Linked DNA regions of Homo sapiens. The protein of the gene in region 3 interacts with the protein of the main gene of each other region in a pairwise test. Each region holds a gene or a part of one and is shown on either strand. Other genes may lie near its edges.

Region 1 (8,307 bases), on a different chromosome or scaffold from region 3:
CCAGGATGAGAAATAGAAAATAGAGGCCTCATTCATTCCTTCCAGCTGCTGTGGAGTATCCCAGCAGGTAACGACTCTACAGTATTTCTCTTTCCCCTGTGGATAAATACTCAAGTTGTTCCTAGGCGTTCACTACAACGAACAATATTGACAGGAGCATCCTGGATGTGTAGCTTTCGGCCCATGTACAGGTGGTTCTTGAGGAAAACACCAAAAGGCTGGATGGCTCCCCAGAGAGGGCACCTGTCACACTCCCCTTTGTGTGAGAGGAGTACTGTAGCCCAGAAGGGTCACCAGGGACTCTGGGGCAGAGAAGAGAGAAGAATGTTGCTCTGCTGATCTCCCAGCCGTCTCTGGATCAATGGCCTTTCTTTCAGGCCTCATGTTCTCTGCTGTAAGGCACTTCACTTGCCTTACTCACTATGCCTGGCACTTAATAAGTGTTCAAGAAAATGGAAGCATGAACCTTTTGAGGGAACAATAACCAATATTTTCATGTATCTTTATGTAGTCTTTTCTATGCACTTTTAAATTAACATAATTAGTATAATGCTACACATAGATTATTTTTATCCTATTTATTTGCTTAGTATTACATTGTAGCATTTTCCAGGTCATTAAAATGTTCTTAAATTTTTAGTGGCTGCATAATATTCCACTGTTTGCCTGTATTATAATTTGCTTAACCTTTCTAGCAGAGCAATCTTTTATATAGTTCAAAATTTTTAGAAATATTTTAATCGAGGTGAAATTCACATAACTTTATAAAATTAACTATATGATTTTTAAAGCGAACAATTCAGTGGTATTTGGTATATTCACAATGTTGTACAAACACTACCTGTCAGTAGCTCCTAAACATTTCCATCACCCCTGAAAAAGGAAACTTTGTACCCATTAAGCAATTACCCCCCATTCCCCCGGCCCCTGGCAACCACCAATCTGCTTTTTGCCTCTACGGACTAATTTATTCAGGATATTTAACATAAATAGAAGCATACTATGTGACTTTCTGTGTCTAGCTTCTTCCACTTAACATAATGTTTTCCAAGGTTCATCCACATGGTGGCAACTATTAGTACTTTATTCCCTTTGTGGCCAAATAATATTCCATTGTATGGATATTCCACAGTTTATTTACCCATTTATCCACAGATGGAAATTCAGGTTGTTTCCACATTTTGACCATTGAAAATAATACTGCTATGAGCATGCATGTGCATACATGTATTTGTTTGAGCACCTGTTTTCAATTCCTTTGGGTATATACCTGAAGTAGAGTTACTGGGTCATATAAAAGTTCTATCTCTGTGGCCGGGTGCGGTGGCTCACGCCTGTAATCCCAGCACTCTGGGAGGCTGAGGCGGGCGGATCACGAGGTCAGGAGATGGAGATCATCCCGGTTAACACGGTGAAACCTCGTCTCTACTAAAAAAATACAAAAAAATTAGCCGGGCATTGTGGTGGGCGCCTGTAGTCCCAGCTACTCGGGAGGCTGAGGCAGGAGAATGGCATGAACCCGGGAGGCGGAGCTTGCAGTGAGCCGAGATCGAGCCACTGCACTCTAGCCTGGGCGACAGAGCGAGACTCCTTCTCAGAAAAAAAAAAAACAGTAGTTCTATCTTTAACTTTTTGAGGAACTGCTATGCTGTTTTCCACCATTTTACATTCCCACCGTAATATACAAGGGTTTCAATTGGCTTCACATCCTTGCCAATGCCTACTATGTTTATATTTTATTAGTATTATTATTACCATTCTAATGGGTACAGAAAGCACGAATCTTAATCTCATTCAAACCAGGCTGCCCTCTGAGGGCTCTTACCTCAGAAAGTAAGGAGAAAGTTGTCTACATTCTAAGGACTAGCCAGGGCTTGGACTTTAAACTCTTCTAGAAAGTAAATTCTACAAGAGCACAAACATGTTTGTCCTATAAACCACTGTATCTTCTAACACCTGGCACCTGGCACATAGTAGGGCCTCAAAAAAACACTGATGGGACAAACGCAATGAATGTTGGACAACCTCCTCCCTCCCTTGCCTGAGATATTTCAGCTGCCCTCCCCGAACACCCCTCCACCCGCAGCGATTATTTTTAATTAGTTGCTAACATTTAAACTCAGGAGAGCTCACATAATCTGGATTTCTGTCTCCTAAAACATTAGAAGAGTTAGCAGCCCTGAGACTAGAACCCACGACTCCAGTGCTCTTCAGACAACCTCAGTGGAGCTGGGGGCTGCCCTGGGGGCTACACCTGGGCTGTCCAGCTTGCACAGCCCTTGCCAGGCCCACTTTCCTCATCCGCAGAACCCTCCACATCCCTATAGTCATTTGAGTTTTCAAACCCCACCCTTCGGGTCATGACAAGGCTTCCTTTTTTATAGAAAAGGAACATGAAGGGCTGGGTGCGGTGGCTCACCCTGTAATCCCAGCACTTTGGGAGGCCGAGACAGGCAGATCATCTGAGCTCAGGAGTTCGAGACCAGCCTGGGTAACATGGCAAAACCCTGTCTCTACAAAAAGTACAAAAATTAGCTGGGTGTGGTGGCACATGGCTGTAGTACCAGCTACTCAGGAGGCTGAGGTGGGAGGATCGTCTGAGCACAGAAGGTGAAGGTTGCAGTGATCTGAGACTGCACCACTGTACTCCAGCCTGGGTGACAGAGCAAGACCCTGTCTCATAAAAAGAAAAGAAAAGGAATGTGAAGCCTAGAGAGGGTAATTGACTTTCCCAAAGTCACACAGCAAGTTAGTAGCACAATCTCTCTCAGCCTCTTTCTTTCTTACATCTTTTTGTTGTTGTTTATTTTTCTTTTTTTATACCACAAGTCATCAAGCAATCACTTCTGCCTTTCTAAACAAACCCCACCACATGCACCAACCACATGTTGGTCCCCACCCCATTTCTCCAGTTTCCTCCCCCACAGGACTGGGAGTTTGAAGGTACTTTCAGAGGCGTGGGTAATGATGCAGAAGCAGCCTGTGCTTAAGTGTAAATGTGCCCTGGTCTTGGCCCCGGCTGTGGTCCCACATGCTGCATCCTCTGGATGGCACTGCGCTAGGACGTGCGCTCCTGACTCTCCCTTCGAGTCACCTCCCTGAGTTCCAGGCATCACCCTGAAATCCTTTGGCCCAGGAGATGTAAGTGCAGCCAAGAGAACAGGAATCCCAGCCTCATCTCTACCATAGAAATGAAGAACAGTGGGTACAGTACAGTAGACGACCCCGAGTCTGAGTGCCAGCTCTGCCAAAGACAGGTTGTGATGCACTAGGCAAATCTCTTCCCTTTCTGAGCCTCAGTTCCCAAATCCAAAAAAAAAATGGAACTGAGGCTGGGCACGGTGGCTCACACCTGTAATCCCAGCACTTTGGGAGGACAAAGCAGGTGGATCACCTGAGGTCAGGAGTTCAAGACCAGCCTGGCCAACATGGTGAAACCCCGTCTCTACTAAAAATGCAAAAATTAGCCGGGCGTGGTGGCGGGCGCCTGTAATTTCAGCTACTTGGGAAGCCGAGGCAGGAGAATTGCTGGAACCCGGGAGGCACGGTTGCAGTGAGCCAAGGTCTTGCCACTGCACTCCAGCCTGGGCTGACAACAGCAAGACTCTGTCAAAAAAAAAAAAAAGGGGGAGAACTGAGGAGGATACTACTCATGATTCCTGCAGCACAATTCCTTTTATGTCAAAACACACACACACACACACACACACACACACACACATACACACACTAGTCCATCATGGCGTATATGTCTTAGTTTGAGTTTCTCCAGAAGCAGACCCTAGGCAAGGTTTCAAATGCAAATAGTTTGAGAGCTGATTCCAGAGACCCTCCTAGGGGAGTAAGGAAGTGAGGCAGGGAACAGGAGGTAGTCATTAAAGGTGTCTTCTAAGCCCAGTTACCACTGCGGGCACCTGGAGCTCAATCCCACTGAGGAGCTCTGGGAGCCAGGGTAGAACAGGCTTGAGAGGTGAGGGAACCGGGGTATTTGTCCACCCTGTTCTCGCTCCTGTCTTTTGTTGAAAACTACTCCTGGGGATGTGATAATTCTCTAGCACTTTCGGCTTGCCAAGCCCATGGGCAGAGCAGGCACCAATAGCCACAGAGAAATCTCTCAGACAAAGAGATGAAGGTGCCGGCAGCTGGAAGTCCAGCCAGAATGTGCAGAAATGGTAAAGGGCAGAGTGATAGAGGCAGGGCACTGACAGCCTCTGCTTCAACATACATGTGTGTAAATGCAGAGGCAGAGGCTGAGGCCAAATGCTGGCAGAGGATATCTGGGTGGGGAAAGAGGTGGCCATGGAGGGCTTATAGAATGAGTAATCCAAGAGTGTCTTAAATGTATCTGTAATGTTTTAATCTTCCTTCCTTCCTTCCCTCCCTCCCTCCTTTCTTTTCTTTTCTTTCTTCTTTCCCTTCTTTCCTTCCCCCCTTCTCCTCCTCCTCTTCCTCCTCCTCCACTTTCTTCTTCTCTTCCTTCCTTTCTTCTTTCTCTCTCTCTCTTTCTTTCTTTTTTCTTTCTTTCTTTCTTTCTTCTTTCCCTTCCTCCTCCTCCTCCTTCTTCTTCTTTCTTGCTTCTCTCTCTCTCTCTCTTTTTTTTTTCTTTTTCTTTTTGAGACAGGGTCTCGCTCTGTCTCCCAGGCTGGAGTGCAGTGATGCTATCATGGCTCATGCAGCCCCAACCTCCTGCGCTCAAGCGATCCTCCCACCTCAGCCTCCTGAGTAGCTGGGATCACAGGCACATGCCACCACACCCAGCTAATAAAAAAAAATTCTGGTAGAAATGGGGTCTTGCCATGTTGCCCAGGCTGGTCTTAAATTCCTCGGCTCAAACGATCCTCCTGTCTTGACCTCTCAAAGTGCTGGTATTACAGATGTGAGCCACCATACCTGGCCTCTAATGGTTTAATTTTTAACAAGAAGGATGCACTAATGTTTTACTAGGTGGTAAAAGGTCATTTTAAAAATAAAATACATACCCTTCAAAAAATAAAAGAAACTGAGACCTGGAGCTTTGTCAATTATAAAAAAAATGTAAAAGGATCAGCGCCTGTGTTACTGAGGCTTTGAGGATTCCATTTGTGGAGGACAGGTTTGGGGGCAGCTGATCTCTCAGTACCACGGCAGGTTAAAGTGAAAAGTGGCCCTGGTGGTGAACTGGCCACCATGTCCTGTCTGGAGGGGGAAACTTCCACTCAGCGGCAGCCAAGGAAAGACTGCTCCTCTCCCAGCAGAAGCGAGCAAATGTGCATCACCCTTCTCAGTTTAAACATATATTTATAGCTATTGGTTTTCTTTTTGTTTGTTTGTTTTTGTTTTGAGACAGGATCTCACTCTGTTGCCCAGGCTGGAGTGCAGTGGGGCAATCTTGGCTCACTGCAACCTCTGCCTCTTGAGTTCAAGCAATTCTCCTGCCTTAGCCTCCCAAGTAGCTGGGATTACAGGCACCCACTACCACGCCCAGCTAATTTTTGTATTTTTGGTTGAGACAGGGTTTCACCATGTTGGCCAGGCTTGTCTCAAACTCCTGACATCAGGTGATCCGCCTGCTGACCTCAGGTGATCCGCCTGCCTCAGCTTCCCAAAGTGCTGGGATTGCAGGCATGAGCCATTGCACCTGGCCTATTTATAGCTATTGTTTAGACGGGAAATCTGGGGGCATCCAGCAGACTAAATGGGGACCTTACTGTCATATCTCATATCCTATTGGTCAGATGGATAATAAACAAATCAACAGGTAATACATTAGGTGCATTAGTCCAGGTCCTTTTTTATTTTTTCTTTTCTTTTTCATACTTAACTTCAGCATACCCTGAGATAGTTCAAGTCCTTTGAGAAGCAGACTCCCATAGCATTAAATGTGCAAGAAATTTATTGGAGGAAATGGCTATGAGAGAAAATGGGAAGAAACCAGGAGAGGACAGGAGAGCCATCAGATAGTGGGGTACCTCTGTCCACTAATGAAAAAGAAAAGGAAGGAAGAAAGGAAGGAAGAAGAAAGGAATAAAAGGAGGACGTGTCTTGGACTGCCATGCCGTATTTTTTTTTTGTAGTTGTTGTTCTGTTTTATTTTGTTTTTTTTGAGACAGAGTCTTGCTCTGTTGCCCAGGCTGGAGTGCAGTGGCGCAGTCTTGGCTCACTGCAACCTCCGCCTCCCGGGTTCAAGCAATTCTCCTTCCTCAGCCTCCTGAGTAGCTAGGATTACAAGCATGCGCCACCACGCCCAGCTAATTTTTGTATTTTTAGTAGAGACGGGGTTTCACCATGTTGGCCAGGCTGGTCTTGAACTCCTGACCTTGTGATTCGCCCGCCTTGGCCTCCCAAAGTGCTGGGATTACAGGCGTGAGCCACTGCGCCCAGCTGCCGTGCCATTCTAAGGAAAGTTTGTCAAGGCTGTTAAGGAGCCCTTGGCCAAAGTCTCTTGACAGAGGTCCCCCAGACATGGGTGGGCTTCGGTCTCCCTGCCACACTCAGTCATTGGCTGGGAGCAGCCCATGAGAGCAGTGATGGACTTCAGAGCACAGCAGCTGAGCCGCTGATCAATTTCTCCAGTCGTACTCCTGCAGTTGGAGATCTGAGAGGTGCATCCTCATGGCCACCACGTTTAAGAGGTGGTTAGGGGCATGAAGACTAGCTGGGAACAGGCTAGACAGTGATGGGAGTTGGGGGGCAGAGGATCCTGTCTTTGCCAGGGTGATGAGGGAAGGTTGCTCTGAGAAGGTACAATCATTAGAGAGACTGAAGGAAGTGATGGAGCCTTTCTGGGTGAAGAATATTCCAGAAACAGAACATGCAATGCCCCAGAGGTATAAGCACAGTTGGTGAGTTGAAGAAGAGCAAGGAGGGCTCCAGTGGAATGATCAAGGGAGAGTTAGAAGGAGACAGATCTGAGAGGCTGAGGAGGGGATCAGATTGTGGAGGTCTTACCCACCTTGGAGAGGACTTGGGCTTTTACTCCAAGTGAGACGGAAACCCTGGGTGGGGGTTGAGCAGAGAAGGAATGCGATCTGACTTACCTTTTTTTTTTTTTTTTTTTTTGAGACGGACTCTCACTCTGTTGCCCAGGCTGGACTGCAGTGGTGCGACCTCGGCTCCCTGCAACCTCTGACTCTGGGGTTCAAGCGATTCTCCTGCCTCAGCCTCCTAAGTAGCTGGGATTACAGGCATGCGCCACCATGCCCGCCTAATTTTTGTATTTTTAGTAGAGATGGGGTTTCACCATGTTGGTCAGGCTGGTCTCCAACTCCTGACCTCAGGTGATCTGCCCGCTTCAGCCTCCCAAAGTGCTGGGATTACAGGTGTGAGCCACCATGCCCAGGATGACTTACATTTTTAAAGGCTCACTTATTTGTAAGAGGCAGAATGCAGATTCAAACCCAGCTCTATCTGACTTCAAATCTCATGCTCTATTTTCAAACTGCCCTGCCTCCTGCCTGCCTTAGAGATAAAATCATTCCAAGAAGGTTCACAGTTGCTCTGGAATTCTGAAATTGACCAAGTGTCCCAAGAGTAACATTGAACATGCTATGAGTTTTATATGTGGTTGAATAAGTGTTTGGAACACAGGCATCTCAGAGCCAGCCCTATGGCTCAGCCAGGCAAATGATCAAAGCCCTGAGTTCTCCTTTAGTGTGTTGCTCTGTCGCTCGCCATCGTGTGAGCCAGGGCCCACGCAGCCTCTTGGGGTTGTTACTCCACCTGTCCAATGAAGATTTTGATCTCCCAAGTTTCCTCCTGTTTGCAAAATCAAAGTTTTGAGCTCTATGAGAAAGAAGCTGAGGCTCAGTAAAGGGAAGACGTGAGAAGTCAGGAGTGACCCCTAACTGTCTATTAGGGACAGTAGTCACTCGGGGATAAAGACAGTTCATTCAGAAGACAGTCAGGGAACCCGAGGAGAGGGAGCTGCTGGGCTCTGCACCCCCAAGGCACTGCTCAGGGAATTGGCTCCTGTTGAGGAAATACTTTTTCCCCACCCCCATTGCTGAGCTGTTCTGAGAAGGGAAAGTTCCTGTAACTGAACAGCCTTAAGCCCTGGGCCCCCAGCGGTCTGCCTTCTTGAGAGTTCTGTTTGGGTTCCTCATTCTCCCCTTCCCCTTCATCGCCCACAGCCTCTGGGGCTGACCTCAGTGGATGATGACAGGCAGGAGAGCTGAGTGCCAGTTTGACCTACCACTGACTAGCCGGGGGACCCACTCTCCCATGGGCTTCCATTTCCCTATCTGAAAAATAACTTCATAATTCTGGTCTGTTGACTTCAGCCAAGTATGATGAGGTCCATAGAGAGTAGAACATAATATATCCATTACA
Region 2 (8,307 bases), on a different chromosome or scaffold from region 3:
CCCATAAATTCTATCATCACATCATCCAGCCTTAACAAATTTTGGCTTTGCACATTGGCATGATTATTGTATTTCTGTTTTTCACCAAGAGACAAGTTTTTAATATAATAGAATCCCTAAATATCAGGTTTCATTTTACAATCAATGCTTTTAACCAGGTTGCAGTTGTAATGCAGTTTAAATTGCCCGTGCAATGTGTATTGTATCATAGCTTCATATTTGCCTTTCTTTAATTGAGTTATATGCAATGTTGGTGCTACATTTGTTACTAAAGAATGTTTTCTAACAGCTTACTGTACTTGATGTTATAAGAAAAATAATTTTGTATACAGAAAGCCAAGGAAAAAAACAGGGTATAATTTTAATATTAATGAAATAAATATTTTTAACTGTCTTGTTTTCAACCCCGTGCTTTTTTTTTTTTTTTTTTTTTTTTTTAGTACAGACAGGGTTTCACCATGTTGGCCAGGATGGTCTTGATCTCTTGACCTCGTGATCCGCCCACCTCGGCCTCCCAAAGTGCTGGGATTACAGGCGTGAGCCACAGCGCCCAGCCCCCATGCTTTTTTCTTAAGTAAAAACCCAATGCTTTATAAAATCTAGAGAGGGAATATACCTATGTGTGGATGACACTGAATCATTGAGAAAAATGCAAAAGGACTGTCTGTCAAATGCCAAACAAGGCAACTGAACACAAAATAAATTGCAATGAGAGGCTGGTGTGACTTACTAATGGATCACACAGGCTGAAATAAGTGAATGTGGTTTATTTGTTTTAAATCAGCATCAGGTGTTTTGTTTTTCATTTCTTAGTGGTGTATTAAATAATAATATGTTTTAAAATTAGTATTTTCTTGCATTTGATGAAATACAGGCTATATGCTATTGTAAAGAAATGAGAGGAAGACAATTAAAAGGTAACAATGAACTTATTATAATGTGCACAGTCGACTGATTAATCACTAGATTTTCCATCCTTTCATCCTCATTAGGAATTCTATGGATAGGTAATAAGCTAGCTGCATGACAACTAAATTGCGCAGAATCTGACATAATTACATGAGTTTCAGGAGGCTTAATTCTGATTTTGAGAAAGATGTGGCTAGACACATGCATTAAAATTACCTTCAGGGATCTCAAATTCTTCAGAGGTAATAAACATTGGTTAACATCATAATATGGAAATTATTTTCCTCTGGGCCAAGGCAACCAAATCCATATATATATATATGTGTGTATATATGTATATGTATATGTGTATATATACATATATGTACACACATATATATACATATATATACACATATATATACACATATATATACACACATATATACATATATACACATATATACACATATATATACATATATACATATACACACATATATACATATATATACACACATATATACATATATATACATATATATATACCCAAATCAGATCTATCTATATCTATCTATCTTAGATTCCCATCCTTCCGATCCAAATGCATATGCCAAAATGTATTTTAATATTTTGTGTTAAGAGGATGTTTCCTATGTACTTCTAAACATATTCCAAAACATGTAGCATAAAATAAACCTAGAATTTTAGAATTGGAAAGCAACTGAATGATTGTTAGAGTTTCTTCAAGATCTAAATTCTATTGTCTTACATTTTATTCATTTCATTCAGTGAGTGGACTTAGAAACTGAAGCCCAGAATAATTAATTTATTCATTCCATGTTACACAGTTCAATGGTAGCACAACTAGAGTCTTTTGGCTTCAGGTTCAGTGTTCTTTCTATTAGCTCAAATTGTCCTATAATATACTAAAGACACAATAGGGTAATTAGTGTAGTGTATGGTATGATATGCCTCCTACTTTTCCCTTTCTCTGCCTCAAACAAATACACTTTCAAGACTGAAGTCTTAATTTTTCCTGTTGCTGAGAGTGTTGGCAACTGATAGCTCTCAAGTAAATTTCTCTCCAATAATTTCTCTGCTTAAAAAAAAAAAGCAAAACCAAAAAAACCTACTCATCCAATACTATAGCCCTTCCCAGGGCCTGCCAATGTCCAATAACTGGATGATGGGATATAAGACTCCCACCGACTTGCCTGAATTGGAGACCACTATTAAGAACCATCCCAAATTCAGACCTCCCTATGTGATCAGTCGAGATAGTGTAATTGCACAGAATTTAATTTCTCACTCTGCCTGACTCTGCTTTCTTCATTCTCTATAGTTGTTGGCCTAAGAACACTCCCCAATACATTTCACAAACATCTGTCTCACAGTCTGTGTTCTGTGGAACCAAACTACAACAATAAATATAAAATTACTTGAATTTTCTAGAGAAAGTGACTTTCTTTTTAAAATAGAGATAAAAGTGTTCCAAGTGATTAGGTTCTAAAAGATGAAATAAATACCTCTCAAAGTAGTTTCAAGGTCTGTTAGTTACATTATATTGTTACTGTGATGATGATGATTATTGTTGTGATTAAGGTAACTACATTCCAGGTAATTAGGCATTTTATAATCAAGGAGGTCATTAAATATTTGTAATAATCCTTTATGAAGATATGGATATAAATATAAAACTTCATTTCTCAGATGAGGAAATTGGCAGCTTAGGAAGCTTAGGTAACTTGCCATGTTCACTAAACTAGAAAGTGTCTGACTTGAAGCTGACTTAAGGTAGCATTTGGGTCTTATATGAACAGCCCTATTTCACATGATGTATGCAGCACCTTGTCCTCAGTGTGGCCAATAAATATTTATCACAAGAATAAATGAATTCATATATATCTGACCCTACCCATATGATTAACCCCTGCACAATGCAATCTCCTATGTCCACTATGAGCTTTGGAGATAATAGTAAATATCACAGAGAACTTAAAAAAAAAAAAAAAAAAAAAAAACCAAGGGCAAAAAAACTAACATGTCAAAAACAAACTATGCTAAATAAACATAAATGGTTGATTTAAATGTGTATTTTCCTTTAAAAATTGAGAGTAAGAAGCCCCATCTTGCTTCTTTTGATAGTAGATCCACATGTGCCTTCTAAGTACCAGATACTGTACCAGAGAAGGGGTGCTGAGGCTGCCTGTGTGACTGAATTATTTGATCCTTTTCAATATGTCTTTTTAAAACTGTATATTCAATTTAATATAATATGCCAGGAGAATTAAAATGATCACATAAAGAAAACAATGAATATTCCCTCAAAGGTAATATTAAAATAGTGGAAATGAAGTCTACTCCTACCATTTCTACTTTCCTAGGCAGCATCTGTTGAAATAGAAATGAAAAAGAAATGTAACCACTGGTGTTATCATTATGGACTTATTAATGTTGCATTCATCCCCAATTTTTTCCACAATATTTCATAAGCAGCACCCATGATATGTCTAACATTTGGCCACAGATATTGAGCACAAGGTTGATTTGGGGGTTGGTTGGTAACAATTAAATAAACATATAAGTTTACAGGGATGGAGGAAAAAGAAAAGATCACATTTCTAATAGGTCCATAGCCTAGAGTATTGGGAAAGAGCCAAGAAGAAGAAAGTGAGCTAGACAAGTTCCCAAATGACGAAAATGGAATCAAAATAGTTTATTCCTTTTACTCCTAAAAAGTCTGAGGCATCTCTTGTGAGTCTTACAATGTTTCCTTTCTACACCAAATTACCAACCTACCTATGTCTACTCCAAATCTAAGGAAAAGTTAAAACAGCATATTAGAATTCACAGAGGGGGGTCTGCTGTAAGTAGCTTATCACAAAAATATAAATAAGTAAAGATGACATCACAAACATCAAGACAATAAAAAGGAAAGATGACATCACAGACATCAAGACAATAAAAAGGAAAGGCCTGAGTAGCAAAATCCTTCCCTCTGAAATCACTGAGTTTAAGGACGCCTAGTGGGTCTTTGTTTTGTAGAAAAGAAAAGGAGGGAGACTTATTTCAATAATAATCATTTTGAGGCATCAGCTCATATTACAATGTTTTTCTGCACGTAATTAATTTTAGAAAAATGTGATGAAGTTTTGAAAAATTCCTATGGAAATACTCGAGGAAGAAGGAACTGGTAGATAATCAAGCAGACGGCCTGTCCTACACTAGCTTAGGATAAAATCAAACTCTGTGCTACAATTTTCCAGTCTGTATAACGGGAATAAAAGAAACTACCTCAAAAGACTCTTGTGAAGAGTGAATATATGAGAGCAATAGCAGAGTGTTGGAAATACACACCCAATAAATATTATGTATTATCTCAAACTTTATTCAGCAAATATTTATTAAATGGTTAATATGTGCCAGGCAATTGTGTCAGGAAGAAAGAGTAGAAATGAAGAGAAATGGATGACTTGAGATTATATTTTGTAAATAGCAAGGACCTGATTTTAAGGTGTATGAAGAAAAGAGAAAAGAATAATTTTCAGGTGTTGGCCTGAATGTGGTGCCATTTACTGAGAAGGGAAATTCTTGGGGAAGAATGAGTTTCACAGTTGAGAATCAAGTTTTATTTTGTTTGGTTTGATATTATGCCAAATTAGTAATATTAATATAAGTAATATTAATCAAACAAAAAGTGATGATGGCTAAATAAGCAAATGAGCCTGCAGCTATCTATAGTGCTCTTCTCTCTTCTCCCTTGTCTGTTTCTCTTCATTTTTATCCTCTTTCTTTGTAGCAACAATAAATCCTTCATTTTTTGCATGCAGAACAATTAAGCCAGCCAGTCTCAGTTTTTACCTCAATGTGTTTTTCTACACAAACATAGTGCTCTCTTCAGGAGGAATATGGGTGCTAGCTTGTAATCTTTGCTTCTTCACAGCATGATTCAATGAGCTATGCCTTGTTATTACTAGAGTATACAATTCTTATGAGCAAGAAGATGGTATGTACTTGTGGACCTGATTTTGATTAATAAATTGCATCCAAAAGTCTAAATGAAACATGTATTGAAATTTCTAATAAGTGGTCTATTGGTCTTCTTAGATTCTTGTAGTTACTTGTGTGTTTTTAGTTCCTTTAATTTCTTGCTTACCACTTTGGTGATACAAATCATGATACTGATAATTCTATAAACTCTCTGGACATATATTTAAGTAACTATAGCATATTAAGCCAACAAAAGCTAATGGCCTCATATGTCTATATTCATCACTTATTAAAATAATCTGTATTTTCATACTCTGGTATCGCTTCAAATCATATAAATCACCTTTTACTTAATAAAATAATCTGTATTTTCTGTGAAGCTATATAATTCAAATTTAGTAAATTAGATGAACAAATATAAAAATGCCTTTTAGAGTAAATTAACCATTTAATCACTATCTGTAATAGTATTGCACCGGAAAATTTAATCCCATGGTTAATTGTATTGATAATTTTATAAACCTCATTGAAAATTTACGGGTTCAGACACAAATGTATAAATATCACTCTGTATTGTATGTATGCTATGAAAGTGTTTTTTTAAGACATCTTTTTCTTTCTGTGTCTTACCATAGGCTACATATCGAAATCGAATTGTGAGCCAAAATCTCAGCACAAGGGACAGAAAAGCAATACATACTCCCACCGAGGACCGTTTTAGGTATTCGGCAGCGGACCAGACAAGCCCCTACAAAAACAAGACCTGTCAACTCCCAAGTCTCTGTTTAAGTAATTTCCTGAAGGACAAGGAACTAGCAGAAGTTATCAAACATTCAAGAGGAACTTATGAAACCCTCACTTCAGACGTTACACAGAACTTACGGGCCACCGTTGGGCAGAGCTCTCTGAAGCCAACAGCTAAGACAGAAGGGCTCTCCACGTTCTTAGAGAAACCAAAGGACCAAGTTGCTACGGCCCGACAGCATTCGACCTTTACAGGCAGGTTTGGACAGCCACCCAGAGGGCCAATCTCTTTACACATGTACAGCAGGAAGAATGTGTTTCTCCACCACAATTTACACAGCACTGAGCTGCAAACTCTAGGCCAGCAGGATGGGTAATTAAATCACCGTATTCCTGTCTTTGGGTAGGATAAAGATGGTTAGTGTTTCTCGTGCATAGTTCATATTAAAATTGTCATGTACTTTTTCTTACATTTTAGTTATAAACAGAGTTGTGTTGTTGGGTTTTTTTTCTTAGTCATAAACAAAGACTTGTGGGTTTTTTTTTTCCAAGAGTGAAAGTTTGAGCATGTTAATTGAACTAGGTTGCATTGCCTTGAAGACTTTACTATATAGGTGTATAATAAATGGGACCATCATGATCGTTTATATAGTCCATAATTTATTTATTTTTTATCTCTATCACTTACTGATATGCATTAAGGTTTCAGAAGATAATATCAAATAGCAATCTGTTCACTGTTAATGGTGTTACTATAAAAGTAGACCTGATGAAAAATAGATAAAGGAATTATAAAGAATTTTAAATTATATAATTAATAGAAGGAGGAAAAAAGAGAAATGTTAACGTCTTATATTTGGTGGTATATTTATTTGAAGAATGTGGCTTGCTTGCATGTAACCTAGAGATGTGTTTGTCTCTATTACATACATTCAAGCTCATCTTGTGATACTAGTAAGGGGGAAATGGCTGTATTTTTTTTCCTTTAAACGTTTAGTTCATACTAGTTCACAAAGGATTTCAGACAGAGTAATTGCTAGCCAAATAGAGAATGACAGCTCTGATCTTTGAAAAATTTTGCTTTTAGTTTTTGTTATTGATGTTGAAGTACCGTGACATAACACAAGGTGATAAAGTTGGTTGAATTTTGTCAGATGATGCATAAATACTGACATGCTATATTCTTTGAGCCACTGTCATGGCAATATAAACATTTTTTCAAAATTTCAAGGATGAAACATCCTAAGAAAATTATTCTTTTTCTTTACTTTCCTTATTTTTTAAAATGTTCTTTTTTATGTAAATCCAATTTTGGTTTATATACATCAACCCATATCTATAATTTTATGAACTGAAGAACAGAAAGTCAGTATTTTAGTAGCCAGCATACAATATTCTGACTATGCAGAAATCTAGATTTGGAACAAAAGTAAAGTAAATGTGAACATTGGCAATTTAATCTTAGAAATAAGCTTCTAACAGGAATATTTAAAACCCATTTGATGGCAAATATTTCTCTTTGACAAATAAGGCCCAAATATGTTATAATATGTTATATACTTATGTGCACTTTAGATCAATATATGAATTGATCTATGGATAATTCCATCATGTTCAATTAGTAGCAGAGCAGAATCAAAGAGTACAATTGAATACATAAATAAATAATTTTTAAAAGACTAATAGGAATCAAGGCTGCAGTTTTCTTATACACATCAGAGCTGTTAAGTACATCCACATTAGCCATAGTCCATGCAAATTGAAACTGTCATACCTACTGCATGATCTGTTTCCCTTGCATTTTCTAACAGAATCTGTCAGCGTGCACAAGCAAGATGAACAAAGGGAAATTGAGATAGCAGTTTTAGCATGGCATCTGACAACTTGCTTAAATTAAAGCTGTGTGCAAAATGCATCTCCTATTATAAAAATGTATTTGTGCCCTGTGCTTTGGGGAAAAGCCATTAGACACTCCACCCCTGAGCTTTAACTACTGAACTTTGATACATTTGCAAACTTAGATTGGAACTGATAAAGTAAGGAGTCGAGTGGATATGTTGTACTTGTAATTTTGGTTTTCCAAAGGAACACACATGTGCATCAAGGCAGACATTTGCCAAATGTTTTCTTTCTTTGCGTGTTTGTAATTCTGCCAAAAGAGAACAATATACACTGCAAATTGCTTGACTTAATGAGATTGCCATCTAAAGTTCCCACCATACTTTGGAAGCTATAATGATCATGCAGATATACACTTTGGGCTGGGCAATATTTAAGAAATGATAGGAAAATAGAAAAATCATGATTATTAATTGTGGAATTCAGCTTGATTTGTCCTAAATGTTGGTGTCTGTTGCTAGAGTATTTTAAATCTGTACATAAATAAGCATGATAAAATAATCAAGGATTTTTTCCCAGGATATGGAAGAACTATGTATCACAAATAATGTTTTTGATTTGGACTTTTGGAGTTGATAGTTTTGTTTTCCTGGAAGATAGACTTTTGAATTATACTTTATAAAAATAATCTATTTATAGAAGATCTGTCATTTAATAGACATTTTAAGAGATGTTTTAAACGCTAGTATTTTCTTGAAAAATCTTTTTTAAAGCTGAATCATTCAAAAGAAAACCTGGATTAAACAGTTCGATTTTAAAAGGAAGGGTATTTTTTGGAAATAT
Region 3 (8,307 bases):
ATTATGCTCCAGAGTGCGGAGATCTTCCAGGAGCTCCTGGGCTGCGGTTTGCAGGCGGGGGTTGCGGCTCTTGGACATTGCCAGGATGCGTTGCAGGGGCAGGGAGCTCCGGAACTCAGAGGCCGACTTGGAGAAGACTTCAGGTTCCAGAACCACAGACTGGACAAGCCTCAGTACATGAAGGCACACCTCTGCATCTGGATCTAGGGAAAAGAGGTAATGCTTCTGGTTAGAATAAAATTTTCTTTTTTCTTTTTGTTTTATTTTTTTGAGACAGAGTCTCGCTCTGTCACCCAGGCTGGAGTGCGGTGGCATGATCTCTGCTCACTGCAACCTCCGCCTCCCAGGCTCAAGAGACTCTCCTGCCTCAGCTTTCCTCTGTAACTGAGGCAGGAGTTTCCCAAGTAACTGAGATAACAGGTGTGTGCCACCATGCCTCGCTAATTTTTTGTATTTTTAGTAGAGATGGAGTTTCATCATATTGGTCAGGTTGGTCTCGAACTCCTAACCTCAAGTGATCCACCCACCTTGGCCTCCCAAAGTGCTGGGATTACAGGCGTGAGCCACCGCGCCTGGCCTAGAATAAAATGTTCTACTGCAATCTACCCCTCAAGGGGTTCCTGGCCTTTCTGAATAACACGTTTGACAGTTTAGAAAACTACAGGATAACCCAGAAACACAGTCACTGCTTGATATAAAAGCTTAGCTCATAAAAGCAGCATCAAAAAACTCAATAGTCTAATAACCATCATCTTCAAATATTACAGTCATACAATTTTAAAGTGTTAAACTAGAAAGATGAGGGCTTTCTCTGTTTGCTAGTGAGGACTAAACTCTGATTTTTTTTATCTTGCCCAAATTCCTATCTAAGGGGTCTGGGGAGTCATGTCCTACAAATCACAAATTCTCATCAGATGGGTTTTATTTAACCCTATATATCATGACTTTCCAACCTGACTCTGGCATAACATTATGAGACAAGAAAGAAAATAAAAATACTTTACCCCAAAATATGTTTCTTTGCCATATTTTGAAATGGCCCTGCAAAGCTGTTCTTTGTGGGGGAAAATCTGCATTTGTAAAGAATCTCTACTAACATAGCTAGATCTTTTTCTTCGAGACCCTCCTAATCCTAAAGAGATTAACTAAGATCTGAATAGGAAACATCTGTCATCTATTGTCTCTAAGGCAGCCACCATAAGACTTCAAAAGAACTTGGATGTCCACAATCTTTACCTTAACCTGAACATTCCCTTTCTATCAATCCCAGGTCTTTATCAATCAGAAAATGTTTAAATTCACCTATAGCCTGGAAGCCCCACGCCCCCCAGCTTTGTCCCACTTTTCTGGACCAAACCAATGTATTTCTTAAATGTTTTTGATTGATGTCTCACACCTCTCTAAAATGTATAAAGCCAAGCCGCACCCAACTACCTTGGGCACATGTTCTCAGGACCTCACTCATATTTGGCTCAGAACAAATCTCTTCAAATATTTTGCAGAGTTTGACTCTTTGTCGACAGTAGCATTCTGTCCACTTATAAGATTGTTTTAAAAAGTATTACTTCTTTTTCACTCCAATTGCAGCAAATCCCTCAGGGACCACATACAGATACAGCACTTATCAGGGCCACTGAGTTTACACAATGTCACTGGGTATATAAAATTCACGTTGTTTATTTTCCATGGGAATGGCCCCAGGACTTATAGAATCTGGTAGCCTTGCATACATTGTAGCAACCACTAAAAAATAGCTAGACAAACCCACTGGAAGCTTCAATCCATCACCAGAGTGGAGCCAACTTTCCTTACCATTCCTCTCTACTGGCAGCCTTTACGATGCCGTAAATTCACTCCTTGACTGGGTACTGCAACTGGAACCAGGCTCAAAATCAGCACCTCTTTCTTAGCACATTTACTTAACAAATAAAAAAATTAAAAAAAAACCTTTTAAGATGTAGACTGAAAGAGCAGACTGAACAGTCTCTCAGTGGGAGCTGCCACAGCACTAAGCCCTAACAAGAAGCTTCTCACCTACAGAATCAGAAGACTGCTGTGGCCAGGGAAGATAAAAGGCAATCTGCTCTAGCCCTCAGGGAGGGTCCAGGAGCCATCTTAAGCCAGCCTGTTAGAGTCCTCCTACTTTGGGGGAAGGGAGGGGAACTTTCTCTAGTAGAGACCTGCCAAAGATAAGGGGCAGCTAAGGCAGACACAGAGGCAAGGCCAAAAGCCATGGGTGAAGACGCTTTGGCAACTCAGCCCTCATCCTAAGCTCAAGGAAAGGTTAGAGGAATTTGAAGCCAGTGGGATGGAAGGTACATACACAACAACAAAACCCAGACCCACCTTAACTCCCCAACAATGAAAACCCAGCGGAAAAAGAGGAGTGGCCATTCCTGAATATAACACTATCTACCCACCTCATTCCCCTCTACAGAGAGGGTACGCATGGCCCAGAGGCCAAAGGTAGCCCATGACCCGTTTCTGTACAGCCTGCAAGCTAAGAATGGTTTTACTTTTTTTTTCTTCTTCTTCTTCTTCTTTCCTCCTCCTCCTCCTCCTCCTCCCCCCCCCTCCTCTCCTCCTCCACCACCTCCTCCTCCCCCCCCCCTCCTCCTCCTCCTTTTGGAGACAGGGTCTTGCTCTGTCTCCCAGGCTGGAGTACTCTGGTACAATCATGGCTCACTGCAGTCTCAATCTCCTGGGCTCAAGCCATCCTCCCACCTCGGCCTCCCAAGAAAGAGGGACCACAGAACATGTGGCCACGCCCAGTTAATTTTTCACATTTTTTTGTAGAGACGGTGTCTCACCACACTGCCCAGGCTGGTATCAAACCCCTGGGCTCAAGCAATCCTTCCACCTCAGTCTCCCAAAGGGCCAGAATTAGAGGCATGAACCATTGCAGCCTGCCAGGTTTTACATTTTTTAAGGGTAATTTTTTAAAAGTAAAAACCAGAAGAATAACATGCAACAGGGACTACACGTGGCTCTCAAAACTCAAAATATTTATTTGGCCCATTACAGAAAAAGTTTTTTGACCTTGCCTACTGCCCTCCACACAATGTCCAACACTGAAATCAAAAATTACAATGAAGAGGCAATGGAGGCCAGGCGCAGTGGCTCACACCTGTAATCCCAGCACTTTGGGAGGCCAAGGCGGGCGGATCACGAGGTCAGGAGTTTGAGAACAGCCTGGCCAACATAGTGAAACCCCATCTCTACTAAAAATATAACAATTAGCTGGGTGTGGTGGCGCACGCCTGTAATCCCAGGTACTCAGGAGGCTGAGGCAGGAGAATCCCTTGAACCCAGGAAGCAGAGGTTGCAGTGAGCTGAGATTGCGCCACTGCACTCCAGCCTGGGCAACAAAGTGAGACTCTGTCTCAAAAACAAACAAACAAACAAACAAACAAACAAACAAAAGAAGGCAAAGGAAACAAAAGGCTCATTGTCAAGTGACAATCAACAGAAGCAGACACACAGATAACCTGGAATAATAATACAGGAATTTCAGAAAAAGAATCTGAAATAAATATGATCAATAGATGGGAAAACACTGTTTTAAGGTACTTACACTATACCTGAAGCAGCGGATTATTATTTAAAGGTAAACAGTCATGCAATGTATAACATTTCAGAGAGCTTCATTGTCAAATTCTATCAAAAAATTAGAACAGAAATAATAGAAATTTTAAACAAGTCTTCCAGAAAACAGAAAAGGAGGAAATAAGTCAACTTTTTTTTATGAGGCCAGAATTACACTGACACCAAAACTAGATAAAGATGTTAAAATAAAAGAACAGACCAATATCCCTCATAAACAAAGACACGAAAATCCTAAACAAAAAAATAGCAAATTGCATTCAGCAATATATAAAAAGGATAATACTTCACAGCCAATAGACACTTATTCTAGGAATGGAAGGCTGGCTCATTATTTGCAAATCAGTCAACATCACCTACCGTAACAACAGACTAAAGAAGAAAAAAAAAATTATCTCTTCAATAAATGCAGAAAAGCCTTTTGACAAAATTCAACATCTGTTCATAACAGTAATAATAATAATAAACCCTCAACAAAACAGGAATAAAAAGGAACATCCTGAACCAGATTAGGGGCATCTACAAAAAACACACAGCTAACATCATACTTAATGATAGAAGACTGAATGCTTCTTTCCTAAGATGACGTACAAGGCAAGAATATCCTATCACCCCTATTCAAAATCATACTAGAGATCCTAGCCTGTGCAGTAAGGCAAGAAAAAGAAATAAAAGGTTTATTGATTAGAAAGGCAGAAATGAAACTGTCTCTATTTGCAGATGATATGATTGTCTATACAGAAAATCCCAAAGAAACTAGAAAAAAAGTTATTAGAACTAATTGAGTTTAGCAAAGTCACAGAATACAAATTCAACATACAAAGGTCAATTGTATCCACATACTTATAACAAAAAATTAAAAATCTAATGTTTTTTAAAAATTACCATATATTATATAATAGCACCAAAACATGAAACACTTAAGTATAAATCTCATGAAACTATGTGCAAGATTTCTATGCTGAAAACAACAAAACACAGATATAAGGATCCACAGACATATAGATGGAGAGAATATGCCATATTTATGGACTAGAAGACTCAATATTGTTAAAATGTCAAATCTCCTCAAATTCATCTATATAATCAATGCAATGCCAACCAAAATCCAAGTTGAAATTTTAGCAGAAATCAACAAGTAATTCTCAAATTTATTTGGAAAAACAAAGGAACTAGACCAGACAAAACAATTTAGAGAAAGAGAAATGTTGGGGAATTGCAGTACTAGATTTCAACATTTATGGCCATAAAGAGTGTGGTACTGGTCAAGTGACAGAGCGACAGACAAAGAGATAAGTGAAATAAAATTAGAGGATCCAAAAACAGACCACAGCTTTGTGAACTCTCAACAAAGGTATACATTCAATTCAATCAAGAAAGAATAACCTTTACAACAAATGGTGCTGGAAAAATTGAACATCCATATGCAAAAACAAAGAACTTCAATCTATACCTTGCCTAACATACAAAAATTATACAAAAATTAATAACATACCTAAATGTAAAACCCCAAATTTTAAAACTTCTGGAAGAAAACAGGAGAAAAATCTTTGTGACCTTGAATTAGGTAACAATTTCCTAGACACAAAACCAAAAGCATAATCCATACAACTAAATAATTTATTAGCCACACCAAAATTTTAAAAATCTGCTCTTCAAAAGACAGTCACAATGAAAAGACAAGCCACTAGATGAGGACAAAACATTTGCAAAACACGTATCTGATAAAGGACCTAAATCCAGAATACACATACATCTCTGAAAACTCAGTAACACAACAGCCCAATAAAAATAGGGAAAGTGTTTGAAAAGACACTTCACCAAAGGAGATACACAAATGGCAAGCACACAAAAAGATGCTCAGCATCATGGCTATTAGAAAAATGGAAATTAAATCCATACCTATTAGAATGGCTAAAATTAAAAAATAAAAATCTGAAAATACCAAGTGTTGACAAGAATGAGGAACAACTGGAATGTTCATAGATTAGTGGTGAAAATTTAAAATGGTACTGCCAGGCCAGGCGCAGTGGCTTACGCCTGTAATCCCAACACTTTGGGAGGCTGAGGCAGGCAGATCACCTGAGGTCAGGAACTTGAGACCAGCCTGGCCTCCATGGTGAAACCCCATCTCTACTAAAAATACAAAAATTAGCTGGGTGTGGTGGTGCACGCCTGTAATCCTAGCTACTTGGGAGGCTGAGGCAGGAGAATCACTTGAACCCACGAGGTGGAGGTTGCAGTGAGCCGAGATCGTGCCACTGCACTCCAGCCTGGGCAATAGAGCGAGACTCTGTCTCAAAAATAAATAAAATAAATAAAATAAAATAAAATAAAATAAAATAATAAAATAAAATAAAATAAAATAAAATAAAATAAAATAAAATAAAATAATAAAATAAAATAAAATAAAATAAAATAAAATAAATAAAATGGTACAACCACCTGAGACAACAATTTGGCAATTTCCTATACATTTAAACACATACTTACCACATAACTCAGCATATGAGTTATATGCTGAGATAGTTTTATGTCACAACTCATACAATTGTCTACTAACAAGTGAATTTTGTTCTATGTAAATTATAACTCAACAAATCTGGCTTTATATTAAAAATAAGAAGAAGGCCAGGCTTGGTGGCTCACGCCTGTAATCCCAGCACTTTGTGAGGCCAAGGTAGGTGGATCACCTAAGGTCAGGAGTTCGAGACCAGCCTGAAAAACATGGTGAAACCCTGTCTCTACTAAAAATACAAAAATTAGCCAGGTGTCATGGCAGGCACCTGTAATCCCAGCTACCTGGGAGGCTGAGGCAGGAGAATCACTTGAACCCCAGAGGCAGAGGTTGCAGTGAGCTGAAATCACGCCATTGCACTCCAACCTGGGCGACAGAGTTAAGACTGCATCTCAAAACTAAAAAAAAATAAAAATAATAATAAGAAATTAGATCCCTGGACCCTCTCCCCTATTCCCTGCCTCTGGAAAAATGCCCTTCCCTAGTAGAGACTGGACATTTCTTTTCTTTTCTTTTTTTTTGTGAGACAGAGTCTCACTCTGTCACCCAGGCTGGAGTGTAGTGACGTAATCTCAGCTCACCGCAACCTCCGCCTCCCAGTTCAAGTGATTGTCCTGCCTCAGCATCCTGAGTAGCTGGGATCACAGGCACCTGCCACCACACCCAGCTAATTTTTATATTTTTAGTAGAGACGGGGTTTCATCATGTTGGCCAGTCTGGTTTCGAACTCCTGACCTCAGGTGATCCGCCCACCTCAGCCTCCCAAAGTGCTGGGATTAGAGGTGTGAACCACCCCACCTGGCCTGGACATTTATTTTCTAAAGAATCTCTGGAGGTGAAACATCAGGCACAATTGAGGATGGAGGTTCTGTCTGGAAAACATGTGGATTAGATAAACACATACCTACAAGCTCTAAGACATTCCCTCTATCTCTACTTTGTTTCCGGAGTTTATAGGCCTTCATCCCTCCAGAAATAAGGGTGGGTGAGTCTTCTCCAGACAATCTGAACAACCCAAGACAACACAGTCGAAGATACTGACCTATGGGTTCCCAATTAATTGATGCACCAGCTCACACTGCAGAAAAGTTCAGAAGCTCCACCCATATGCTCACAGCTTCCAATCGGCATTATAAATCCCACTGTTAAACATGACCAGACAACCACACATCACCAGACACCTGAGAAAAAGATAAATGGCTATCATTTTAAACAGGAACAAAAGGAGGACAAAGAAAAGAGATTGTGCAGTGAGAAGAAAAGTTTTAAAAAACTATTATTAATATCTTCCTCAAGGAGGTAAAAGAAGCTATATCATCTGTTAAACAAGAATGGGATGCTATTTTTTAAGACAATTAAAAATAAACAGCAGTCTTAGAAATTAAATGCCTGAGAGTAGAGATGAAAACTTCAATAGGAAGTATGAAAAAAGAAGTTGAGAGTACAGATGTCCCCTCTTATCTGTTGCTAAAACTTTCTGTGGTAGTGCCGGCATGTGTCAAATACAATCAAACTTGTTCCTGTCAGGTGCTTTCTGACAGTGGCAAAGCTCTCAGGGCACACACTGAGCATTCCCTCCTCCTATGGGCTTCCTGGCCACCTCCAAAGCACATATGGATTCTGGACCATGTCAGCCACATCTTAGGCAATGCCCCAGGCTCCTTGAGCACCTAGGAACATGGAGTCATCGAGCAGCAACATAAGCCCATTCTTACAAGCTTCAAAGAACAAGAAGGCAAAAAAAAAAAAAAAATCTTCCTTGACCCCAAACTGGCCTCCAGTTCTGCCCAGTTCTTGACTCCCTTCCCAGGAATATTACAAGAGTGGTCTGTTGTTGCTACCGCCCCACCTCACCTTCACCCTTCAGTCACGCTACCATCTGCTCACTGCTGAGACAGCTTCTCTCAAGGTCACCAATGTCCTCCATGTTGTCACTGCTCAGCTTTCGTCTCACTTGACTCCTCTGGCTTTTCTTGGCTTCCATAGCACTCCTTCACCAGTCCCTCCTTATACTTCTCCTTTAGATGCTAGCCCAGGGCTCTGTCCTAGGCTTCCTTCTCTTTCTACTCTCCTTAGGTGACTTCGTCTACTCCATGACTTCAAATCCCATGTATCTACCAGTGACTCTAAATCCATTTCTCCAACCCCAGCCTTTCCCTGGAATTCCAGACTTCATAGCCACAAAA
Region 4 (5,616 bases), on a different chromosome or scaffold from region 3:
AACCCAAGAGTTTGTACAGACATCCTGTCTTCCCAGAGAAGGTGGACACTCTTGGGCTCATTGTAAAGTGCCTGCTGCATCAATAAAGCTCTTGGCTTATTAGTCTATACATTGCGGTGTGTTTCGTGTATGTAAAAAAAAATGGTAATGAATGGGATGGTAATGAATGAGAGTTCAGTTGTTGTTCCGGAAACCCGATGTGGAAGGAGTAGACCTGTGTCCCTGTTGAGCCACCCCTGGGAGCGAGCATGGCAATCCACAGGCCCTCTGCCACAGGACGCCAGCCTCGGCCTCAGAGCTGCCGGCTGCTGCAGAGAGGTGTTTGCTGAATAAACTATTTATTGTTTCTTATTCCTTTGATTTGTATGTAATTAATTTTGGAGCTTATTTAATTAATTTAATAAAGTGCCAAACATTTAATAATTGATCTAGGCTTTAAAAGTCTTCAGTTTGTGGGATTGCACTTGGAATCTTTTGAGGGTGGGGCCTCAGATGTGCCTGGTCACGTCTCCTGATGCTGGGTTGGCTGTGCTGCAGAATCACTGCTGCATGGACAAGCTTTCTTTAAAGAACTAAACGTCAGAAATGGGGAGCAATCAATCAGCAAATAGATGGTATAATTTGGTTCCCCATAACCAATAACAGAGCTTCTCTGAAGGGCAAAAATGCTTTTCTTTCCTTTTCAGCACATGTGACTGCAGCTTGCATTCTGTTAAAGGTTAGGGCCCCATTCACACTCCAGAAGCTCCTCTGGGTCATACAGCCTTTGGATACAGACTTTGACCAAAGTGACACAGTCCTCCCCTCCACAGCTCTCCCCTCCTCAGTCCCTCTTCAGAACCACTGCAATTCTTGGGGGGGGTAGAATGGGGCTGTTGGCTTCATTAAATTACGTATATTTATTCACCCAAATCCAGTCTGGGAAGGTTCTTTCTGAAAGAAAGACAAACATTCTCTAGCCCTTGAGGTTGGCCTTGGAGTGTTAAATATGAGACACAAAATACCAGATTTAATGAGTCAAAGAAATACTGACACACCAAACTAGTAAAATCCATTGTAGTTGCATCTGGATTGAAGAGCTTTAATCAAAAAGTGTATTGCACCACAGATGAATTTGCTACAGCAGTTTTCAAGAATACAATCCCTATTTACAACATGGAAGGAGAGCTCAAGATCCATCGCTCGTATAAAGGGCTATAGATACCGTCGCTAACACAGAAAGTTTTATACAAGTCAAAGTGCATTAAATCACTTAGAATATTTATTCCACTCTTCCTCTTAAAGCTGAAGGAAATTCAACATGCAGGAGGAAAGCCTAGTCAGTGAAGCCTCCCTAAAGTGAGTACAGACCTAGGAACGGGCCCCACAGCTACACCTGAAACTGCCGAGGAGTGGGGCCTGGGGTGCGTGTGGGACCAGTTCAATGGCTGGAGAAGCCACGGAGGCAGCGGATGGGCTTCTGTGGAAATGTAGCTGCCTTTGGCTGGCTGTGAGCTACCCAGTCTTAGAGATTCTTTCCTGGAACAGTTGAAAAAGGAAATCCTACTTTGAAAAAAGGCTACCTCTTACCCATCAAACTTGCAGAACAGAAGAGACTCCTGTTTCGTGTTCCCACCAGGTAAATGGAAATTCGTGTTCTAAACAAGGGATAACTGTCTGCAAGGAGGAGCCAGAGGAGGAGGTTAGTCACTGGAGAAGCGGCCTCTGGAAGGCAGAGAGCCTGAGCTGGGACTAAGGAGATGCTGCCCTGACTTGGTTCTTCATGGAAATTTCGTTAGGTTAACGTTGCAAATGCGTGTTTTTCTGTGACACATTTTATATACCTATTTTGGCCCTAAGCATGATTGAGAAATACAACTTTCCATCACTGGATAATGGATAATAAATTTAGAGGCTCCAGTTATTAATTTAGTTTTTTATTTAACCAGTGAAACTTTCATCAAACAATAAACGGTTTCCTTTTAGATTCAATATTGTGGCTTTTCCAGAACCAGCATGTTCCCTTTCCTCAGTAAACGAGGAATCCATAAAACAAGTTTTTGTTGGTTACTACCAGAGTCATGTGCATGCTACAAGTGCTGCAGCCAGCTGGGCGCCGTCTGGGTGTAGTGTCATTTTAAGTATTTGGGGTGGGATGAGGGAGAGAGAGCAGCTCCACAGACAAGGCAGACTGCCCCAGTGTCTCCATCGAGGCTGGGGGACAGCTGCTGCCCCCACTGGAGACAGCGGACTGTCCTTCAGTAGAAGACAGGTGGTCTGCATCGCCCAGCGGCAGCGCAGCACAGAATCAAGACAAAGCACACGAGATCCCACTGCACTTCAGAGGGAGCAGTGCCAGAGTGCGAGTGAGAAGACAAAGGAACAGGAATCCTAGTTTTAGGAAGAATTTCCTCTGGACGCTCTGATTTTAAGAACACCAGTTAAATGGATTTTATAGTACAGAAGACATGTTTATAGTAGTGAAGAACTTCAGCTATAAAAAATAGTTTAAAATGGTTTACCAGCAACCTATCCAAGACAAGTACATTCATTAAAAAGGCAATTGAGTGTATTTGGTACTAAGGGTCTTTTCATATATTTGCTAGTTTTCTTAAGTAAAGTGGAGATACTGTCAGAAAGGTGCATTTTCTCATTCATCCACACCGACCCTTAAAGATGGATCCTCTAAAGTTCTAGGTGGTTTGAGAGACAGGGTGAAAGAATATTTTCTTGAGAGGAAGGGATAAAAAGCTTCTAACTCATCTGAATTTTTAAAAGCCACTCCCATAGAGTTCCCATGGAGTTGGCTGTTCCTGGCAGAGGCAGGTGGGTTTGGCCTGCTGGGCACCATCTCAAAGGGCCGTCTCTACCTCCAGTAGCAGCGCTACATGGTGACTCAGGTGTGCCTGCCAGATGCTGATGGCTTCAGCTGTAAGTGCTACCGTGAAGTTAGAGGATTCAGGTGCAGATGGGGTGCTGGCTGGAGCTGGGATATTAGCAGCACTGTGGAAATCTGGGTAGTGCCAGGACCCTCCTGTTTGGTGACCAGAATGACAGGATCAGCTACCCCCTGAGGTTCAGGTCAGCCTGCAGGGAAGTGGGCCTTAGTCTTGTAAACAATGTTTAGACACTTGTACAAAATACTGCAGTTACAGTGATTAAAAACCCACCCAGACTGGTGTGTCAGTGTTCTTTTCACAGAAAAAGTGTCAACCCACGGAGCTCCATCCTTGGGTAGTCCCCTCTAGGACCATGGTATCCGAGGGTTTGAGATAGACGGCCGGATGCTGCCCTTGGGAGCTGGTTTGGACCCAAACCATGACATCTGCATTTGAAACAGAAAAGGCTTCTGAGATGCAAATCAGGACTTGGTGCCAGGGAAACTGAACCGCCCCTCCCCTCCCGTGAGCCTGTCACTCCTGCCCCCCACACATCCTGCCTCTGGCTCTGAGCAGAGCAAGAAGATGGTGCCAGTAACCAGTCTGCAGGCCCGTGCTCAGTACAGGAGGGAAATGAGAGAAAAACACTGAGTTGACAGGAACAAGGTAGTGGAACTGCAGGTATTTTTTCCTATTAGAGCATTTATGCAGACGCTTTTGGAATTTGAGTGCCGAGCCAGACCTGGGGCTCTCGATAAAGCGCTATCAATGAAAATGCTTTGAAAAATACGTGGCCTGTTGGTCAAGTACAGCACAGACATTTGGGCACAAAGGATGTCATCGCTAAAAAGTGCTTGGATCAAGTTCATCCAAAAGCAGCCAAGCTGATCATGCAGCTGTGCTGGTGCCTACACTCGGGTGTGGGTCTAAGGGGTCTTACACTGCTACTGCTGGGATAACTGACAACGTATCTTGGAAGCTGGAACAGTAGACCAGAGAACCCTACCTTATATTCCAGAGTTTCCTTGAGCATGTTCTCCTCCTCTTGGGAAAAGTTCAGCAACACTGACACAGCTTTTATAAGATGAAAAGCCTGAAACACAGTAAGTTTTGCTGCCATAGGCCTTGGTGAAGGTGAGGCGGGGTGGGGTCGGGGGAGCTACGTGGCATTTCCTGCTTGCTTTGGTTAGCAGGACCAGGTGGTGGGTGACGCTCTGGCACTCTGAAGTTTGGCAGCAATGATAGGTTCTTTCTTCCCCTGCATCCTCGGGGGCCTGGCAGGCTTAAGGGAACTGCCCCAGCAGCTACCCTACCCTTTGGCAGGACCCAGGAGCGATGGGTGGATTCCGTTCCCGGCTTCCGGCCTCTGGCCTCAGCACCCAGGCCAGGATTTAGAAGTGGAGCCTATGTCTCCCACCAGGAGCCAGTTCCTGCACGGCCTCTCCCGCCAGCCGCTCACTCCGCAGGCCAACGCCAGCAGGAGAAATGACTGGGTGACCACAAGGGCGTCAAACCAGGATGTACGAGGAAAAGAGAGAAAGGGGCTGGGCAGGGGTCCCTGCAGGACAGACTGTAGGGCGGGGCCTCAATACCCAAAAGACACCTCAAAAGCCCTTTACCTCGGATTCGCGACAAGACATGAATTTTAAAACCACATGTTTAAGGTACTCAAAGTTGATCTCGCGGGCATCTGTCAGGTCAGTGTTATTCGTGACGGAAGGCGCCATGTTTGCCATCTCAGGTCCAGGTTTCTCCCGGACTTCGAAGAGCTCATTATCGGGTCTGATTTTCTGAAAAACCAGTGGGAAAGATGCTACACCGAACCCTCTGAGACAGGTGGAAAAAATCACACGGGAGGTTCACCTGGTCCAAACTATGATCACTATCGTAGGGCAAAAAGGGCCCCACCTGGGAAGGAAGCACCTCCAGGTAGGCTTGAGGAGGGAGTGACATCGTTTGGGTAAATTCAGACATTCCGTTTTCCATGGCAAGAACACATGTCCCTGGGGCCTGAAGCTGCTCGCATCCCGCATCAGGCCAAGCACTCTGCCACACACACACACTGTTAGAGCATCACTGCGCTGGCGTGGCAGGCAACCCCACTTCCAGATGAGGATGCAGGCTCAGAGAAGGCAGGAACAGGGCTGTAGCCACGGAGCTGCTTCAGAGGTGCATGCAGGCTGGCAGGCTGTCCCACCAGCTAACGTTGGATTGCCCAGCGATCCCTTGCAATTAATTAGGGGGTGGAGGGAGCATAGTCAGGCGGCGAGGGACCTCAGGAGGACCGGGCACAGGCAGCAGGGGGAGTGCTGGGAAGTGGGGCCAGCTCCCATGCGAGTACTCACCAGCTCCTTCTGCAGAGTCTTCCGGAGCTCCAGCATCCGCTGCTGCATCTGCTTTATGGTCTGCGACAAGCCCCACCCCACAGAAAGCCAATCGTTAGATGCATGTTTCACCAAAGGAAACAGACCCGAAGATCCCACGGGATCCCCTGTACACCTGTGAGGAGCCTCTGCCCTGAGAAGTCATCCTGAGAGGCTGGTGCTCAGCTGTCGCATGCTTGTGCCTACGACTGTTGGGCTGTCATCCCTCTTGGGCCACTGCTTTCACACGCTTGAGTCTCCACGTCCCACAGGGGCCACAGTCCCTCTGTGTTGACATGAGTGCCCCAGCGCTGCCTATCCCTTCCCGGGGGCTTGGTCCACCACACACAGCCCAGCTGGAAAAGGCTCTGGACCATAGATTTTGCCCTCAAAAT

What was found.
Region 1: the proteins of HSF2BP (region 3) and HCK interact in binary tests that used the Homo sapiens proteins (3 or more experiments, as listed by UniProt).
Region 2: the proteins of HSF2BP (region 3) and CCSER1 interact in binary tests that used the Homo sapiens proteins (3 or more experiments, as listed by UniProt).
Region 4: the proteins of HSF2BP (region 3) and GOLGA1 interact in binary tests that used the Homo sapiens proteins (3 or more experiments, as listed by UniProt).

What each region holds. Positions count from the first base shown.
Region 1 is NC_000020.11:32,054,920-32,063,226, forward strand, and holds part of HCK (tyrosine-protein kinase HCK), read left to right. Parts: intron 1-8,307. UniProt on the Homo sapiens protein: Non-receptor tyrosine-protein kinase found in hematopoietic cells that transmits signals from cell surface receptors and plays an important role in the regulation of innate immune responses, including neutrophil, monocyte, macrophage and mast cell functions, phagocytosis, cell survival and proliferation, cell adhesion and migration.
Region 2 is NC_000004.12:91,593,056-91,601,362, forward strand, and holds part of CCSER1 (serine-rich coiled-coil domain-containing protein 1), read left to right. Parts: intron 1-5,516; coding exon 5,517-6,002; 3' UTR 6,003-8,307.
Region 3 is NC_000021.9:43,529,760-43,538,066, forward strand, and holds part of HSF2BP (heat shock factor 2-binding protein), read right to left. Parts: intron 204-8,307; coding exon 1-203. UniProt on the Homo sapiens protein: Meiotic recombination factor component of recombination bridges involved in meiotic double-strand break repair.
Region 4 is NC_000009.12:124,877,307-124,882,922, forward strand, and holds the end of GOLGA1 (golgin subfamily A member 1), read right to left. Parts: intron 5,264-5,616; coding exon 5,204-5,263; intron 4,649-5,203; coding exon 4,478-4,648; intron 3,952-4,477; coding exon 3,865-3,951; intron 3,305-3,864; coding exon 3,224-3,304; 3' UTR 969-3,223; downstream 1-968. UniProt on the Homo sapiens protein: Involved in vesicular trafficking at the Golgi apparatus level. Involved in endosome-to-Golgi trafficking. Mechanistically, captures transport vesicles arriving from endosomes via the protein TBC1D23.